Linked DNA regions of Homo sapiens: region 1 is linked to region 2. The links come from fine-mapping of genetic effects on gene expression. Tissue or cell type: whole blood. Region 2 holds a variant in brackets; the other region holds the start of a gene. All regions are shown on one strand. Distances are from middle to middle. Region 1 holds the start of NCOA1 (nuclear receptor coactivator 1). Region 2 overlaps LOC105374329 (a long non-coding RNA gene).

Region 1 (8,562 bases), 42 kb after region 2:
AAATGGGTAAAATACAGAGCTGGTTATGGGCAAGTGGCAGGCTCATGCACTATGGCTAGGACCACAGATTGAAACAATTTTCTGGAGGCCAGTTTGGTAAATAATGTAGTAAAAAAATTAACATGTACCCTTTGAGCCAACAATTAATCTTCTAGAAATTTAAAGAAAATAATTTCTAAACTGCACGGAGGCATGCATTAGAATTACAGCATGATTTACAAAAATATACAAACAAAAATACAGACAATGTAAACATTTTTAGTAAGGAATTAAATGGCTAAACAGATACACAATGCAAGAGTATTTAACTATTAGGATGAAAATACATTGTACAGTAAAAGGCACCAGATTACTGATGAGCATTTATCATGTGATTTTATTTTATTTATTTTATTTTTTTGAGATGGAGTCTCACTCTGTTGCCCAGGCTGGAGTGCAGTGAGGCGATCTTGGCTCACTGCAGCTTCTGCCTCCTGGGTTCAAATGATTCTCCTGCCTCAGCCTCCTGAGTAGCTGGGATTACAGGCACCCACCACCACACTGAGTAGAGACAGAGTTTCACAATGTTGGCCAGGCTGGTCTTGAACTCCTGACCTCAGGTGATTCGCCTGTCTCGGCCTCCCAAAGTGCTGGGATTACAGGCGTGATTTTATTTTTATGTAAAATTGACTACATATAGTGTATTTATATGTGCAAATATATATAGAGAAAGGTGTGGAAACATGTTTACTATGTTTCTCTCTGGCTTGAAAAAGTTTATTTTTAAACTTTTTGTGCTGTTCTTTATTGACTGAATATTTTGTGAGTCTGTATCAATTATTATAAAACAAAAAACTATTTGAAAAAAAGAATGTCAAAGTTAAATCAATTCTTGCCTCAGTAACTGGAGTAATTTCATGCACACTAGCCATATATTTTATAGAACTGGAAATCTATTATGCTCTGGAGAAAATCCAACAGGTATGTTCTAGATTTTGCCCGTAGAACTAGGCTGTTTCTAGTCCACCAAAGGATTATATTAATTTATGGAAACAATAGGGTTTGGACTAAAACCAGTTCTATCTGGGCTATAAGAGTTAAATGTTGTCTTACATTTTTATTTATAAATATCTTCAAAGCATTTTCATTTAATTGGAGTTAGTCTTCCTTGTTGATTGGCATTGTATTTTGGGAGTAAATAAATTTTAAATAGCTAAGGTAAATGGATTTTAGAGAGGCTACTTGTACAGTCACGAAGTAAATCTAATGAATCTTTTGGCCCTATATTTAGGGTTGCTCGGGTGGATTAGTAAAATGGGCCTGTTTAGTAAAAGTAGATGGAGTCTGAGAGAAGTTGAGTATGACCAGAGAAAAGATTACCAATTGGAGACATAAAAGGGTGTTATAACTGCTTTGACAAGTGATTATGACTTGTAGAGGAAGGAGAAAAAAGTCAAAGAGTTATTATTTAAGAAACATTACCAGGCGCAGTGGCTCATGACTGTAATCCCAGCACTTTGGGAGGCCGAGGCTGGTGGATAACCTGAGGTCAGGAGTTCAAGACCAGCCTGGCCAACACGGCGAAACCCTGTCTCTACTAAAAATACAAAAAATTAGCCGGGCGTGGTGGCGGGTGCCTGTAATCCCAGCTACTCGGGAGGCTGAGGCAGGAGAATCACTTGAACCCAGGAGGCAGAGGCTGCAGTGAGCTGAGATCGCGCCACTGCACTCCAGCCTGGGCGACAAGAGCGAGACTCTGTTTCAACAACAACAAAAAAGAAACAGTACCATTCTAGAAAAGAACTCTCTCTTTAGCATACATGGATGGTTATGGCAATATAAATTAACACCTAAATAATTTGTCATTCAACAAAATCTTAGCACTGTGTGTCTTGAGGATATTTTAAAGTTAATTACGACCCCGGGCTGCAGAGTGGGAGATTGGAAGAAGGAAATTCAGGAGTTGTTTTGTTAACAGTTGAAGCTGTGGAAATAAACAGTCAACCGAAGCCAGAGGAAAGGAAGGAAAAAAATAAAACCTTGAGGATACCAACATTTTTTATGGCCCCGTAAAAAAGGAGCAGCCCAAGAAAAGTGCAAACGAAGGCAAGTTCAGAAATCAGGTAGAGAGACTCATATTGAAGACAAGGGAGGAGAGTTTCAAAAAGGAGGAGTTAGCAGTATCACGTGCTGTAGAAAGGCCACACGACAGTAGGACTGAAGTGGCCACTAGATTTGGCCTTCAGCACTTACTAGAGTCTAGTGGAGACAGGAGTACCTTGCACAAGTGGCTCATTTGTTGGCACCAGAGGCTAGAACAAGGCACTTTCACACAGTCTGCATTGGACTAGATTGGGAAGTAGGCCCTACATTAGGGGACGAAACTCATGAGTGCCCGGGTATTTTCAGCTATTATTGGGGATAGGGACTCTGCGGGTGGCTAGAGGTACTGCTAAGCCAGAGCTCAGGAGATGCACCTAGGGCCCCAGTAGTAGGTCTCCGATAAGAATCAGGGGAATGAATATATAAATGAATGAATATATGAATGCATGTGGGGGTGTGGTCTAGCGATTACTTTATGAGCGTGACAAGGATAGGAAGAGGATGGTGAAAGCATACAGTAGTACCTGCCTGTGAAAGAAGCTGCCCGTCGACTCAGAGAGCTGCCACGGAGATTGGTGTTTTCAAGGCTGTCAGGTTCCCCAGTTGGGAGAAGGGTGGGAAGGGCTTAAGGATTTACAGAGATTGATTTAGGGGAGAACACACAGGAAGCGAAACAGCAGGAAACGCCGGGAGACAGCAGCAGCAGGACAGGATTGAGGAAGGGTAAGAGTGCGAAATGGGGTAAGAATAAAAGAAAGGAATGGACAGATGTATGCTTTACAAGGCACTTCCACGGCGAGTGACTCATTCATGCTTAGGACAACCCAGGGAGAGACATAGGTATATATTGCATTGCCAGCCTTTGGAATGCGGGATGCGGTCCAGATAAGGCCATCGCAGCTCAGAGAGGCTGTTCAGCCGCTGTTCGATTCCTCTGGTGACAAGAACACTCTACTTTTGGAAGTAGCACTTCTATTAGAGAAGTTAAAAAAAAAAAAAAAAGAAAAGGGAGATAAGAAGAAAGGTGTGGGCCCCTTGAGGGGAAAGATCTGTGAATGACAGACATTTTAGATAATTCATGGAATTGCAGAGCCAGAACGGGTCAGGCAGATCTTTTCATCTGTAAAACGAAGGGGGCAGACGATCTTCCTTTTCTCTTGTCTAATAGCCTGTGAAATCATCTAGGCAACCACCTCCCAATTTTACAGAATAAAAAACGAGGCCCGCGGGATATGTCTCGCTCAAAGTAACAGAACGCCCGAGTGGAGGGACAGGCCCGGAGCCGACTCCGCCCCGTCCGCAGGGCCTCTCGCCGCTCCGACACCTTCCCAGAAAGATAAAGAACAGCGGGAGGCGGCAGGCCCGGCGGCCTAGCTGCGAGCGCCCTGGTGTTCGAGGCCGCTTCCCGGCAGCAGTGGGAGGAACGCCCCGAGGGGAGGGCAGGAGAGGGGCGGGGAGGAGTTGAGACGGGCGGGGAAGAGTTCGGGCCTCCTTTCCCACACTTCGTTAGGACGCCGGCTGGGGCGGGCCGGCAGAGGGCGCGGGGCGGTTCCTCGCTCGGCGGGCCCGGCAGGCCCGGCGGGCTGGGGGCGCGCTGTCCCGGGCGCACTGTCGGAGCTCGCGGGCACCGGGTCGCGGCGGCCCGGGCGGCCGGAGCCGGCAGGGGAAGTGCGGCGGGCGGGCAGGCGGGCGGCCGGGAACGGGCGGGGCGGGGCGGGGCGCGAAGGGGGCGGTGCCGCGAGCGGGGGGCGGTGGCGGCGGCGGCGGTGGCGGCCGAGGAGGAGAACATGGCGGCCGCGGAGAGCGGCTGAAATGCCTGTTCTTCAGGCCGGGCGAGCGGGAGTCTGACGCGATTTGCTGAGCTCTGTCCTCCGACGGCTGCCTCGCGGCCTTGAGGGCCTCCGCCGCCTGTTCGCTGCTGCTCCCTCGAGCGGAGCCTGCGTCAGGTTCCCTCTGCATCCCCCTGCGGGGGGACCCCTGCTCCGGAGGAGGGGGCCGGAGAGCCGCGGCGCCGGGCCCGAGGAGCGGCGGAGGCCGGGGCGGCGCCGCCGCCACGGTCGCGGACGAGTGCGGCGCCGGTGAGCGGGGCCCAGAGGCGGCGGCGGCAGGTGAGTGGCGGGCTGCGGGTGCGGAGCCTCCCGGTGGGTGCAGCTGTCACGAGCCGCGCGGCCGCGGAGGCCCTAGGGGGCGGGGAGCAGCTGGCGCCCCTCCGCCCCCTGCTCTCCTTTCTCCCGCTCCATCCTCCTCCCACTTCCCCGAGTTCCCCTCGCGGCCCGGCGCGGCTGGAGGGGGCGGAGGTCGCAGCTGTCACGGGCACCAGCTGGGGGCTGCTCCCCGCCGGGGGAAATCGCTGCAGCAGCGACTTCTCTCCGCCTCTTTTCCAGTTGCCCTAGTTAGCGCGGAGAGGGCGAGCATCCGCGGAGGGGGTGCGAGCTGCGCGGCCGCCTGCCCGGCGTGGGGAGCGGGCGCCCCGGGCCGCCGCCGAGAGGGGGAGCCGGAAGTCGGCGCGGGCGCCCCTCGGCCCCGACGACGCCGTGACCTTGGCCGGCCCGCTCACCTCTCGGAATCTCGCCTGCCGGGACCGCGAAATGGGGGCGACCGCGGCGTCCCTCTCCGTCGGCGCAGCCCTCGACGGCGCTTGGGTTTGACCCCGGCGCGCTTGCTCGCCCCTTCTCCCGAGAAGGGGTTTCGGAGGTAGACATGGGATGGATACTGGACATGTTCCTGTCGCGGCCCGGGTTTGGTCCCCTTCCTGGGATTCAGCCGAAAGGGCCGAGGAAGGGAAGCAAACATGTTGACGAGGCGATTGGGAGGTGGGGTTGGTTAGTGGGCAGTGACAGAATTCGGGCCGCTCTCTAGTCCCTTGTAAAAGACCTGAAAAAATCGGACACCCAGGGTCTCCAGTCCTTACTACCCAGCTGTGGTGGCTGCTTTTTTATTTTATTTAAAAGCAGTTACCCCCATGGGTAGACACTGCCCAGTCTGACGACGTTAGAGGGAGACGGAGGGGTTGACAATACAGCCTGTGTGTGTGTGACAAGGACAGGCCACGGTGTTGTGTCCGGAGAGTTTCATGGGGAGGAAAACTTTAAGCTGGAGGATCTGTTAGCCTCTCATGCTTGGCCCTCCTCGTTTCTTGTAGAGGTGTTGAACAGGCAGGTGTCCTTGTGCAGAAGGTGACATTTTTTCTTCGGAGACGGTGAGTTTTTAATGTCGAGTGTGATGTTGGTGAGTAAAGGGTTCTTGAGTGAATTGCAGTCCCAGCACCCTCTGTGGATGCCAAGAGGAATCTCTGTGGCGATGATTTGTGAGGGCTGGTGCTTACATTTCAGTGATTAAGAAATCAAGTGTCTGCTTAAAACATTACTGCCGTGAAGCGTAGATTATATGATACAGTTGAGGGATGGATCTCAAGGGTTAAATTTGTTTGAGGTTTGTCTCCTCTTCTGGAATTGGTTGGAGGCTAGTCTCAAAAAAAAAGCAAACAAAACAACAACAATAACAACGAAAGTTGGCCAGAGGGGCCTCCTATGATGTTGTAGGAAGGGGGTCGGATTTCTTCATGTTGAGAATAATGTGAAAAGAAAGTATTTGCTTAGGTCTCTTGGATCTTCAACTAGAAATAGTTTTGGGTTAAAGGTAGCAGTGGGGTTTGATTCAGCTTAACAAATAGGCATTCCTTGAACTATTTGCCATAAATTAGATAAAATGGAAGTGTTTCTGTTTTATCTCCTGTACTTTGTGGAAAGGTCTAATTTGGTTTTGTGAACGAATGTCCGAAATGTTTTATATTTCTTCTTCAGACTCTATGCTTTGGGAACAGTGGGTCACAGAGAGGGTCTGAGTTGGGAATATATGGTTTAGAGAGAAAATAGAGGACTGCTGCTTATAAGAACAGGTGTTTAGTTTGATTTTTGTAGATATTTTCTACTGGTTATTTAACAACATTGAAGTTTGCTTTATAAGGTGCAAAACGTGAATTTTACGTAGCTTACACTTGATCTCTTCCTTATTTCTCTCAGAAAACCTGTAGGATTGTGCCTATTAAATTGCTTTTTGTGTGGTTTAAACCAAGAGAGTATTTTAGATCTGCAGTGGTTTTATTGGAAAAAAAAAAAAAGTGCTTGATGGAGCTAATGGTGATTGTTTCACTTAAACTAGGATTATATAGACAATGCTTCTTCCTGCCTCTTTCTGCGAACATTTGTTTTTGTTTCTCCCTCAATTCCAGGGTTTCATTTCTAGAAATCTGGGCTGCAAACAGAAGCAGCAGTTTGTATAATCCCAAGAACTTGCTTATGCCAGGAAGCTGTAAGGGTAGCATGAAGCGGGTGTGATGTAAAGACACTGCTACTACTTAAGACATTTAACTGTTGAGGGAGTCTAAGGTCAAACTTTAATTTTTGTTGAATTTCCTGTTTTCTGCTTATGTGTTAATCTTTTGGTGGGCAGAAGATTGGGTTGCTATGGTGCTAACTGGTGTATATTGTGAAAGTGCTGGCAACATTTCATGCTTTTACTCTATAGGGAAGGGTGGTAAACAAGCCTAAATAATTTAAAGATGTTGTTCTCAGAATGGAATGTTCTGTGCATGTCTTCTTGATCCTGCTAATCCAGTGAGCGGTCTTCACTAGGACTAAATGTTGAGTAAGTGATGAGGGTGGTATAGAGGTGCTGAAAGGTGGAGTGGTGGAGAGAGGGTATTGGGCATTTTCTTGAAATTCTTTTCCCCAATTCTGTATAGGGAATCTGTATACTAGACTGTGATTTATAATTGTTTTTCAAGGATGTTTTAGTTCTCCCTGCTTGGTTGTCATCAATTTCATATACCTCCTCTTAGATACTACCTCTGTTCCGTACTTTAGTTTGTCTTTTTTGCTGCGTCTCCCAAGGACTCCACATTGTTTGAATGTTATGTTGCATATCTTATGGAGTTGGCTGGCCTTAAGCCATGTGGCTTAACATAGTTTTCATTATAGGGCAGGTGTGGGAGGTCAATACAACGCACAACACGGAGTAAAATCTAAGTCATGGAGCATAGGAGATCCCCGGGACGCTCATGATTGTTTTGGCATTGGTTTTTGCCTTTTAAATATGATTATAACAGAAATTCTCAGAGGACCATCAGCTGCTTTCCTGGCAGAGGTCCAAAAATGTTTTGGAGGGTTCCATTTTGCATTACTTGCAAATATTGGATGCTGTGGTCGGTGTGGGCTCGGGTGAAATCCATGTGTTTCAGGAGGTGGATGTCAGAACACTGTATCTGATCTGGGCTGCAGAACCGTATAAATTTCTCCCTATCTTAGATTAACTTTCCTACCCATTTGGGAAGACTAGACTGTAGGAAAGGACTTTTTAAAATTGCTTCTTTCCCAGATTAGCAGTAGTTTAGCCGTTGGTGATTGGCAACTAAGGATAGGCCTCATGTTCTATTCTTAACATTGAAGATGAGGTCTAGTCATTTAAAACCTTTCCTTTTCTCTTTATATTTTAGTTAGACCTTGTGCCTTTCAACATTTGGTGTCAGAGGTCATAAAATGGCCTAGTGGCAACTAGGTACCAATGTTGGTTGCTTCATTTCATAAGGAGATGAAGGTGTTTTTTTTTTGTTTTTTTTTTTTAATAGCTTAGTTCTGGAAAATGGTTTGTGGGCTATAGTATTTGGATTAATGTATAGAAATGATTATTATATATTTCTGCAGGATACATGGCTGAATAAGGGAAATTATTATAAAACGCTGATACCAACATATAAGTCCAATTCCATAAGTTTAAGTAAAGTGAGTTGTATCCATGCTTCTTCCCCCATAACCCCATCTGCAACACAGAATTTTTGAGGCTCCTTGGAGTGATAGGCTTTTAGAAAAGCTTAGTATGGTTATCATATTTAAAAGATAAGTAGCTTATGCCAAAATAGAAGCTCTAGTCACTCGAGGAGTTATGGAAGACTCACCCTCATCTTGGATATATTTTGTTCTTACCACTCCCCGAGAGTATGTTTTAGTGTGTGGAGGGCAGGGATGTTTGGTTTTACTGAGTAGCCCTGACCTGACCATTAGGCACAGACAGGCCAGACTCATAAAAATAGGTGCAAGCACGGAAGCAAAACGCACCCATTATCAGGACCAGAATTCTAATTGTACTGGATTATCCAGTTTTTCCAGAGTGATGCTTCATTTTTGCCCTTTCAGCTTATAATTGTGGGGCAATTTTAAAGCATCTTTTAGAAAAGAAACTCTGACCAGACAGACAGAGGTGTCCTAGCTCTTCCAGATACTTAGGTTGATGTAGCCTTGAGCTGTTTAACCACACTAAACTTCAGTTTTTATATTTAAAATTGGAGTAACGTACTTGTCCTCATATTGTAATCTTTAAAATTATTAAATGTGTTTAGCATATGATTGGCACATAGACATTAATGACTAACAGGTATTTCATTAGCGAATTCATCACCAAATTCTCGCATTCTTTTCTTTGTAA
Region 2 (8,562 bases):
AGATTTTCATAGATCTCCAGTGATACCCTGTGAATAATAAACTTTTTTTATTTCTCTGAAAGTATTCTCATTTTAGCCTTATTTTAAAGGATACTTTAGTTATGAATATGATTTTAGCTTAAATAGTTATATTCTCTTAGTTCTTTGAAGATATTAATCAAGTCTTTTTTTTTTTTTTTTGAGATGGAGTCTGGCTCTGTAGTCCAGGCTGGAGTGCAGTGGCGTGATCTTGGCTCACTGCAACCTCCGCCTCCCGGGTTCACGCCATTCTCCTGCCTCAGCCTCCTGAGTAGCTGGGACTGTGGGCGCCTGCCACCATGCCTGGCTAATTTTTTGTATTTTTAGTAGAGACAGCGTTTCACTGTGTTAACCAGGATGGTCTCGATCTCCTGACCTCGTGATCCGCCCGCCTCGGCCTCCCAAAGTGCTGGGATTACAGGGGTGAGCCACCGCACCTGGCCTAATCAAGTCTTTAAGATGCTGTTGCTGCTGATTAGAAATCTGCTGTCAGTCTAATAGTTATTATTTTGTAGTCATATGTCTTGTCTCTGGTTGCTTTTAAGACTTTATCTCTGATATTCTGTAGTTTTACCATCATTCGTGTGTGTGTTTTTTTCAGCTTGTTCCTTCAATGTAAGGACTTAGATCTTTTTTATAAGTATGGAAACATTTGATCTATTATTTCTTTAAACATTGCCTAGCCGTCTGTCTTCTCCTTCAGGAACTCCTATTAGAAGTATATAGTATTTTCTAATTACGTCCTCTGTGTCTCTTAACTTTTCTCATACATTTACCATTCTCTTTAATCCCTCTGTACTGCATTCTCTGTGATTTATTCAAATCTGTTTTTCAGTTAAGAAATCTCTCTTCAGCTATGTCTAACCTGCTGCTTAACTTGTTTAAGCTTTTCATTTCAGTGATAGTTGTTTTTATTCCTTAAAGTTATATCTGTATTTTAAAAATCTGCCTAGGTTTTTTCAGTATGGTTTCTTTTTTCCTTACTTATCTTTAATCATTTATTTAATTCATACTTCACCAATTTTTTTTTTTTGAGACAGAGTCTCGCTGTGTCCCCCAGGCTGGAGTACAGTGGCGTGATCTCGGCTCACTGCAACCTCTGCCTCCCAGGTTTAAGTGATTCTCCTTCCTCAGCCTCCTGAGTAGCTGGGACTACAGGCGCCTGCCGCCACACCAGCTAATTTTTTGTATTTTTAGTAGAGGCGGTGTATCACCAGGATGTATTAGCCAGGATGGTGGTGTATTAGCCAGGATGCTCTCGATCTCCTGACCTCATGATCCACCCCCCTTGGCCTCCCAAAGCACTGGGATTATAGGCATGTTTGTGTGTGTGTGTGTGTGTGTGTGTGTGTGCAGTTTTAAGAAATTTTATTGCATGTGAGCTGAGATGGCGCCGCTGCACTCCAGCCTGGGCGACAGAGTGAGATTCCGTCTCTAAATAAATAAATCTTTGGAGTTTTAAAATTTTTTTTGAGACAGGGTCTCGCTCTGTCACCCAGGATGGAATGCTGTGGCATGATCATGGTTCACTGTACCCTCGACCTCCCCAGTTCAAGCAATCCTCCTGCCTTAGCCTCCTGAGTAGCTAGGACTACAGGTGCATGCCACCACACCTGGCTAATTATTTTGTACTTTTTGTAGAGACAGGGTTTCGCCATGTTGCCCTGGCTAGTCTCGAACTCCTGGGCTCAAGACCCACCTCTACCTCCCAAAGGTGAGCCACCAAGCCCGACCACATGTATATTTTTGTGTAACCACCACCACAATCAAGTTACAGAACTGTTCTATCACCACGAGGCTGCAGCATGCTGCCTCTTTAGAACCACCAGCACTTGCCTCATGCTTCTGCCTTATCCCCAACCCTTGGCAACCACTAATCTGTTCTCTACTTCTACGATTTTGTTATTTCAAGAATGTTTTATGAGTAGAATAATACAGCATATAACCTATGGAGATTGGCTTTTTTCAGTCAGCATAATTCCCTAGCGATCCATTCAAGTTCTATGTATTGATAGTTTACTCCATTTATTTATTTATTTAGAGACGGAGTCTCACTCTGTCATCCAGGCTGGAGTGCAGTGGCGCCATCTTAGCTCACTGCAACCTCTGCCTCCTGGGTTCAAGTGATTCTCCCACCTCAGCCTCCCAAGTAGCTGGGACTACAGGTGCGCACCCACATGCCCAGCTAATTTTTGTATTTTTAGTAGAGACAGGGTTTCACCACTTTGGCCAGGCTGGTCTTGAGCTCCTGACCTCAGGTGATCCACCCACCTTGGCCTCCCAAAGTGCTGGGATTACAGGCGTGAGCCAGTGCACCCAGCCCTGTATTTATTTTCAAATGAAATATATGGGCATATCTTTTGCCCATTTTAAAATTAGATTTTTATTTTATTTCATTTTATTTTTTTACTGTTTTGAGAGTTCCTACATGTTCTAGATACAAGTCCTTTGTTGGATATGTGGTTTGCAAATATTTTCTCCCAGTCCGTGCCTTATCTTTTCATCATCCTCACAGAAGTTACAGAGTAGAAGTTTTAAAATTTGATGTCAACTCCTTAATAACTGTAACCTAAATAGATATTTAGTGTAGTAAGTAGTCTCCTTCCGATTTGCTGTGATAGCTAGTTCTTAGGATACAAATTCTTCCCATTGTTGTACATATGAGCTCTCCCTCGTGCTGGTTCATTGATTCATCTCTTTTATATTTTGTGAACTTTTGAAGAAGGTGTTCTTTTTCCTTCATCTTAGTGCCCTGAACTGTGAGTGTCACTCTGCTTTGATGTTTTACATTTTCTCTTGCTAGGACTTAAGAAATTTTATGGATCCTGGACCAGTTTGGGGATTTCTGTAGCTTCAAGGCACAAAAAATATCCACTTTTCCAGTTTACTACAGCATAATTGGATTTACTGCACTAATATGGATCACTCTTTGTTTTTGGGATTTGTGGTTTCCTTTTTTTTTTTTTCTTTTTTCCTTTCTTTCTCTCAGTCTTGACTATGTAATTAAATTTTTGTATTATTTTATAAAGCATTTTAGTATATTTGTAGTGAGAGTTAGTTCACATTAGCTTAATATTCCATGTTGTCAAAACCAAAACAATCCATGTAAGTGTTTTAATCGAAAATTACATATAATTTGAGTACAGAGGGTGAAAACTTAAGAATTAAAAAAAAATAAATAAATAAGATAAACAGTGAAGTTAAAATGAAATCTTTGACAGAGAAGCCCCTAATATTTCTCTATCCATTAAGGTACAGATTTGGATGGAAAGCACCAGATTTTCTTTGATCTTTCTGATTTTTTTTTTCTCTAATCTCATTTCTACCACCCTTCCCTTTAATAGACATTTTTTTCCTTTGATTTCCCAGGATATGCTCCGTGTAAAGTGTTCTGGCCTTCTCCTGAGCTTTGTTTTCTGAATTTTCCTCCTCACACTGTCTCGTCCTCAATCCTGAGTTATAATTTTGGAGCTCTTGTTCTAACTTGACAACTAGTTTCTGATTACCCAGCCACTTCCCATGCTTATCATCTGGCCAGGATAAACCAGGCTTATCTCAACAATTCTAGTGCTAATTTTATATCTTTAATCCACAAATTGCTTGCTGTTCTTAGTGCCCAGCATTTTCATGCCAAAAAGTTTGCATAAAGTTAGTCTCTTTATGGGGAAAATTTTGATAAATGGAAGGAATGTGTGCAATTCTCTATTGCCATCATTAAAGTGGAAGTGGAAAGGCCTTGTGTTGTGAAATAAAA[C/T]CATTTCTTCATTCCCATATTTAGTTTTTTTTCAAGTCCACACACATTTCTACTTCCCTATTTTGTGTAAACAATGGTGCTTCCTTTTTTTCCTTTAAGAGAGAAAATCCCTGTCACCCAGGCAGCCTCACCTTGAACTACTGGGCTCAAGCAATCCTCCTGCCTCATCTTCCCTAGTAACTGGGACTACAGGACAACACACCGTGCCTGGCTATTTTTTTTATTTTTAATTTTTAGAGATTGGGGGTCTCACCCTATTGCCCAGGCTGGTGCTTCTGATTGAAGTCCTCCAAAGGACTTTTATTGCGTTCAGATTGAAGTTTAAATTTCTCACAGTGGCCTACAAGGATCTACATGATCTGGCCCTTGCCTAGTCTTCATACTCAACTCTGTATCTTCCTTTCAATGGGTAGATTCGGGTATTCTTTTATTTCTAGACATTTTTATTAGGTAATTATAATTTTAAATATTCTGTTTTAATGTTTTGTTTTCAGTCTTTATAAACTCCAATTTTCCATATGTTGGATCTTCTCTGCTGATCTCTGATATACATTACTCTGAATCAATTTTAAATAAATGGTTATCACTTCAACTCAAGCATGTACTAAGTGCCAAGTATGCTAGAATATACCCTAGTCAGTGATTTTTTAAAAGGGATCACACATGGTTCATTTTGCTGACTATGAGCTGATAATTATGTAGAGGCAGTGTATATGGAGAAAACAGCTTGAGGCTGGGCATGGTGCCTCATGCCTGTAATCCCAGCACTTTGGGAGGGCAAGGTGAGCAGATTGTTTGAGCCCATGAGTTCAAGACCAGCTTAGGCAACATAACAAAGCCCTGTCTCTACCAAAAATACCAAAAAAGGAAATTAGCTGGGTGTGGTGGCATGCCTGTAGTCCCAGCTACTCGGGAGGCTGAGGCAGGAGGATCACTTGGGAGGCTGAGGCAGGAGGATCACTTGAGTCTATGAGGTCAAGGATGTAATGAACCAAGATTGTGCCACTGCAGTCAAGTTTGGGTGGCAGAATGAGATCTCATCTCAAAAAAAAAAAAAAAGAGAGAAAATAGCTTGATAAAAAAATGAAGGTGTCAATAATAGATGAATAACTACTAAAACAGGATAAAGGCATTAGATGATATAGAATCGAACTGTGTAGCCAAAAACAGTAAGAAAAGCTACCTATAAAATTCAGGTTTAATGGGCTCTATGGAAGAAATCTCATATTTTCCATTCATTTATTAATGCTCACATTGATCTTTATTTTAACACTTACTGACATTATATTTAGACTTCATATTTTCTTATCTTTATGCTACTTTGTGTGCTTTGAATGTTTATGTGCACCCCCCCATCCCAGAATTCATATTTTGAAACTAATACCCAATGTGAGGGTATTTAGAGATGGGGCCTTTGAGAGGTGATTAGGTCATGAGGGCAGAATGCTCCTGAATGGAATTAATGCCGTTATGAAAAAGGTTTCAGAGAGATCCCCACCCCTTCTGCCATGTGAGGTTACAATGACAAGATGGCCTTTCTATGAGAAAGTGGGTTCTCATCAGATGTAAAATCTGCTAGCACCTTGATCCTGGACTTTCAGCCTCCAGAATTGTGAGCAATAAATTTCTGTTATTTATAAGCCACTCAGTGTATAGTATTTTGTTATAGCTTCTTGAACAGGCTAAGACACTACTGTATAAATGTTCCCCTGGCAGATATTTGATGCTTTTTCTGTGTTCCTTCAGAATTTTGTACCAACTTCTATTATAGCACTGCCTACTTGGGCTGTAAGACAGTTTAGCTCAGTGGCCCAGAGTGGTGACTCTAAAGTCAGACAGATGTGACATAGATTCTTAGCTCTGCCACTTACTAGCTTTGTGACCTCAATCAAATTACCTGACCTATAAGCTTCATTTTCTTGATCTGTCAAATGAGGGTAAGAATAGATAGTCATAAATGCTAAATCAGACAATGCATGTAAAGTGCTTAGTACAGTGTCTGACACATAGTAAACTTCAATTCATCTTTTTTTTTTTAAGAGATGGGGTTTCATCACGTTGCGCAGGCTGGTCTCCAACTCCTGGGTTCAAGAAATCAACCCACCTCAGCCTCCCAAAGTGCTAGATTTACAGGCATGAGCCACTGTACCCAGCCAATTCATCTTTATAGGTGCTTGTCTGCCTTACTGTACTACAGTCTCCATGAAGATGTGGACCATGGTATGTTCTTTTTTTGTACTCAAGTACCTGACATGTAGTAAGTCCTAGTAAGTGTTTGTTGGGTGAATTTGCAGCTCTGTATAATAGTCCTTTTTCTTAACAAAAGGTCATATGCCATGTTGGTTCACTATCTAGGAGACTTTTAAACAGAGAACAGAGAGCCTAGCATGTGCTCATCTGGTAAGGTGTGCTTCAGGGTAAATAGTTATTGATACTTGTAACTCTTTTTAACCTATGATCTAGAAAACTCCATTAGTCTGGCTTTCCCCAAAGTTCTTGTGTCCATTAATTTTTCTGTCCACAAAGTTTTCTACCATCCCCACTGAAGACATGCCTGTGGTTTTCTGGGATGACTAATTATTTTATTTTAAATTCACCTCTAAATCTTTATTCCAGAGCATCCTGTATGCAGTTAAAGTTATTAATATTTTGCATTTGGCACCCCTGAGAAATATCAGCATTCAATTATGGACCACATTCTCCTCTTTTCTCTAGTTGCTCCAATGTTGCATTTCCCATGAAGTTTATTAAGAATTTAAGGAGGGAGGAAAACAACCCAGCTATCTTTCCCTTTGACTGATGGCACTAATTTAAATTTTCCCTTTAAAAGTAATGTGTGGTGATATGGTTTGGCTGTGTCCCCCGCCCAGATCTCATCTTGAATTCCCACGTGTTGTGGGAGGAACCTGGTGGGAGATAATTGAATCATGGGGGCAAGTCTTTTCCCTGCTGTTCCCAGGACAGTGAATAAGTCTCATGAGATCTGATGGTTTTAAAAATGGGAGTTTCCCTGTAGAAACTCTCTATTTGCCTGCTGCCATCCATGTAAGACGTTGACTTGCTCCTCCTTGCCTTCTGCCATAATTGTGAGGCATCCCCAGCCATGTAGAACTGTAAGTCCATTAAACCTCTTTCCTGTATAAATTACCCAGTCTCAGGTATGTCTTTATTAGCAGCTTGAAAACAGACTAATACATGTGAATATATTGGTATAGATATAGGTATTATTATGGCTATACTGGAGACATATATGTAGTTTTTTATATGGATGAAAAAGTCTGGAAAAATACATCTCAACAAGTTAACCGTGGTCATCACTGGGTGGTGATGTTATCGGTGTTTAGTTTTTCTTTCTACTTCTCAAAATAAGGCCTTGATGGGTTGGTTTCTTTTCTGCTTTCACTTTAGCTGTAATAATTCTCCGAGACTATTAACTGTTTTCAAAGTCTATTTTCCCATTCGTTTAGGTAATAGGACCCTTAACTTTTAGCTGAATACAAGATGACCAGAATAAAGACTACATTTTCCAGCCTCCCTTGAAACTAGCAAGAGCCGTGTGTCCCCCTTCTAGTTAATAGGATGCAATTAGAAATGTCACGTGCAATTTGGGGAAAGTGTCCTTGAATGGAAGATGCACTCTCCTTCCTTCCTTTTCTCCTTCTTGCTGATGAGGAGGCAGATTTAATGACTAGAAGTTGAGCAACCCTTTTGGACCAGAAGAATAAAAGTCACACCCTAGGGATGGCAAACTGAAAAGCTGGAAGAGGCCTGGGTTCATGACAATTCCGCAGACCTTGCCAAACTGGCCTTAGACTTCTCATCTCCAGATGTTTTACATGAGGGCAACATATACGTTTAAGGAATGATTAATTTGGGTTTTATGTTATAGACAAATCAAATCCTAACTGGTGTGAAATTAGTGTATAATTCATATTTTCCTTTGCTTCAGTAGTGAAGAATTTGTATTATATGCTCTTCCCCAGACACGCTTAACATAATTTCTGTAAGTGAACTGTCAAGCTTTAATTCTTATGCAGTTTTAAGATTGTTAAATCTTGCATATCTCTAGTTCAATGAAAACATTAGCATATGTTTACCAGAACACACATAAAAAAATGTTCATGGCACAATCCATTTGTAATAGCAACAATTTATTAAACCACTGATAAACATGGTTAAATAAATTGTGGTACAGTCCTGCTATTGAGTGTTACACAATGGTGAAAATGAATAGAGTATGATCTCAACATTATTGATCAACCTTAGCAATATAGTATTGAGCTAAAAGAACAAGTCCTAGAAGACAACATATAATACATTCAAAACAAATAAAACTAGTATACTGTTTAGGCCCACGCAAATGTGCAATGAAATTTAAAGAAGAGCAATGTATGATAAAAACAAAATTTAAAAGAATAGTTACTACTGAGAAGAATGTTGGGGTCTGGTATGGGATGGAACAGGTAGGTCGATGTATGTCATGGAGAGTTTTTGGCTTTTGGGTTGAGAGGTGGGGTTATGAGTGGTTTCTTGTATTATTATAACACATACAACGAAAATAAATGAAATGAGGTTTATTTAAAAACCAATGGGCCAGTCATAGCCCTTGATTCATGACACACTATTAATATGAATCAGAACTGTGATTAATCCAGTTTTGTGCTTCTGAAGTTCATAAAACAATCATACCACTTAGGAAGCTGCCTATTATGCAGGCCTGGTTTTATTTCTATAAATCAGGCAACAAGGATGGATGTGTTTCTATTTGTGTACCCAACTGTTTCCCTAAC

What was found.
Region 1: NCOA1 starts here. The variant in region 2 is fine-mapped to the expression of NCOA1 in whole blood (TOPMed, PIP above 0.99).

What each region holds. Positions count from the first base shown.
Region 1 is chr2:24,487,413-24,495,974 of GRCh38, forward strand. It overlaps NCOA1 (nuclear receptor coactivator 1), which reads left to right and starts at 3,842. Exons shown (of 23, transcript NM_003743.5): 1 at 3,842-4,190. RefSeq lists silencers at 3,495-3,834, 3,812-3,970, 4,125-4,614.
Region 2 is chr2:24,445,187-24,453,748 of GRCh38, forward strand. All of the region lies in intron 2 of LOC105374329 (a long non-coding RNA gene), which reads left to right. Among named protein-coding and RNA genes, the nearest start is that of NCOA1, 42 kb to the right of the region's middle. The variant C/T (reference allele first, on the strand shown) is at 3,773.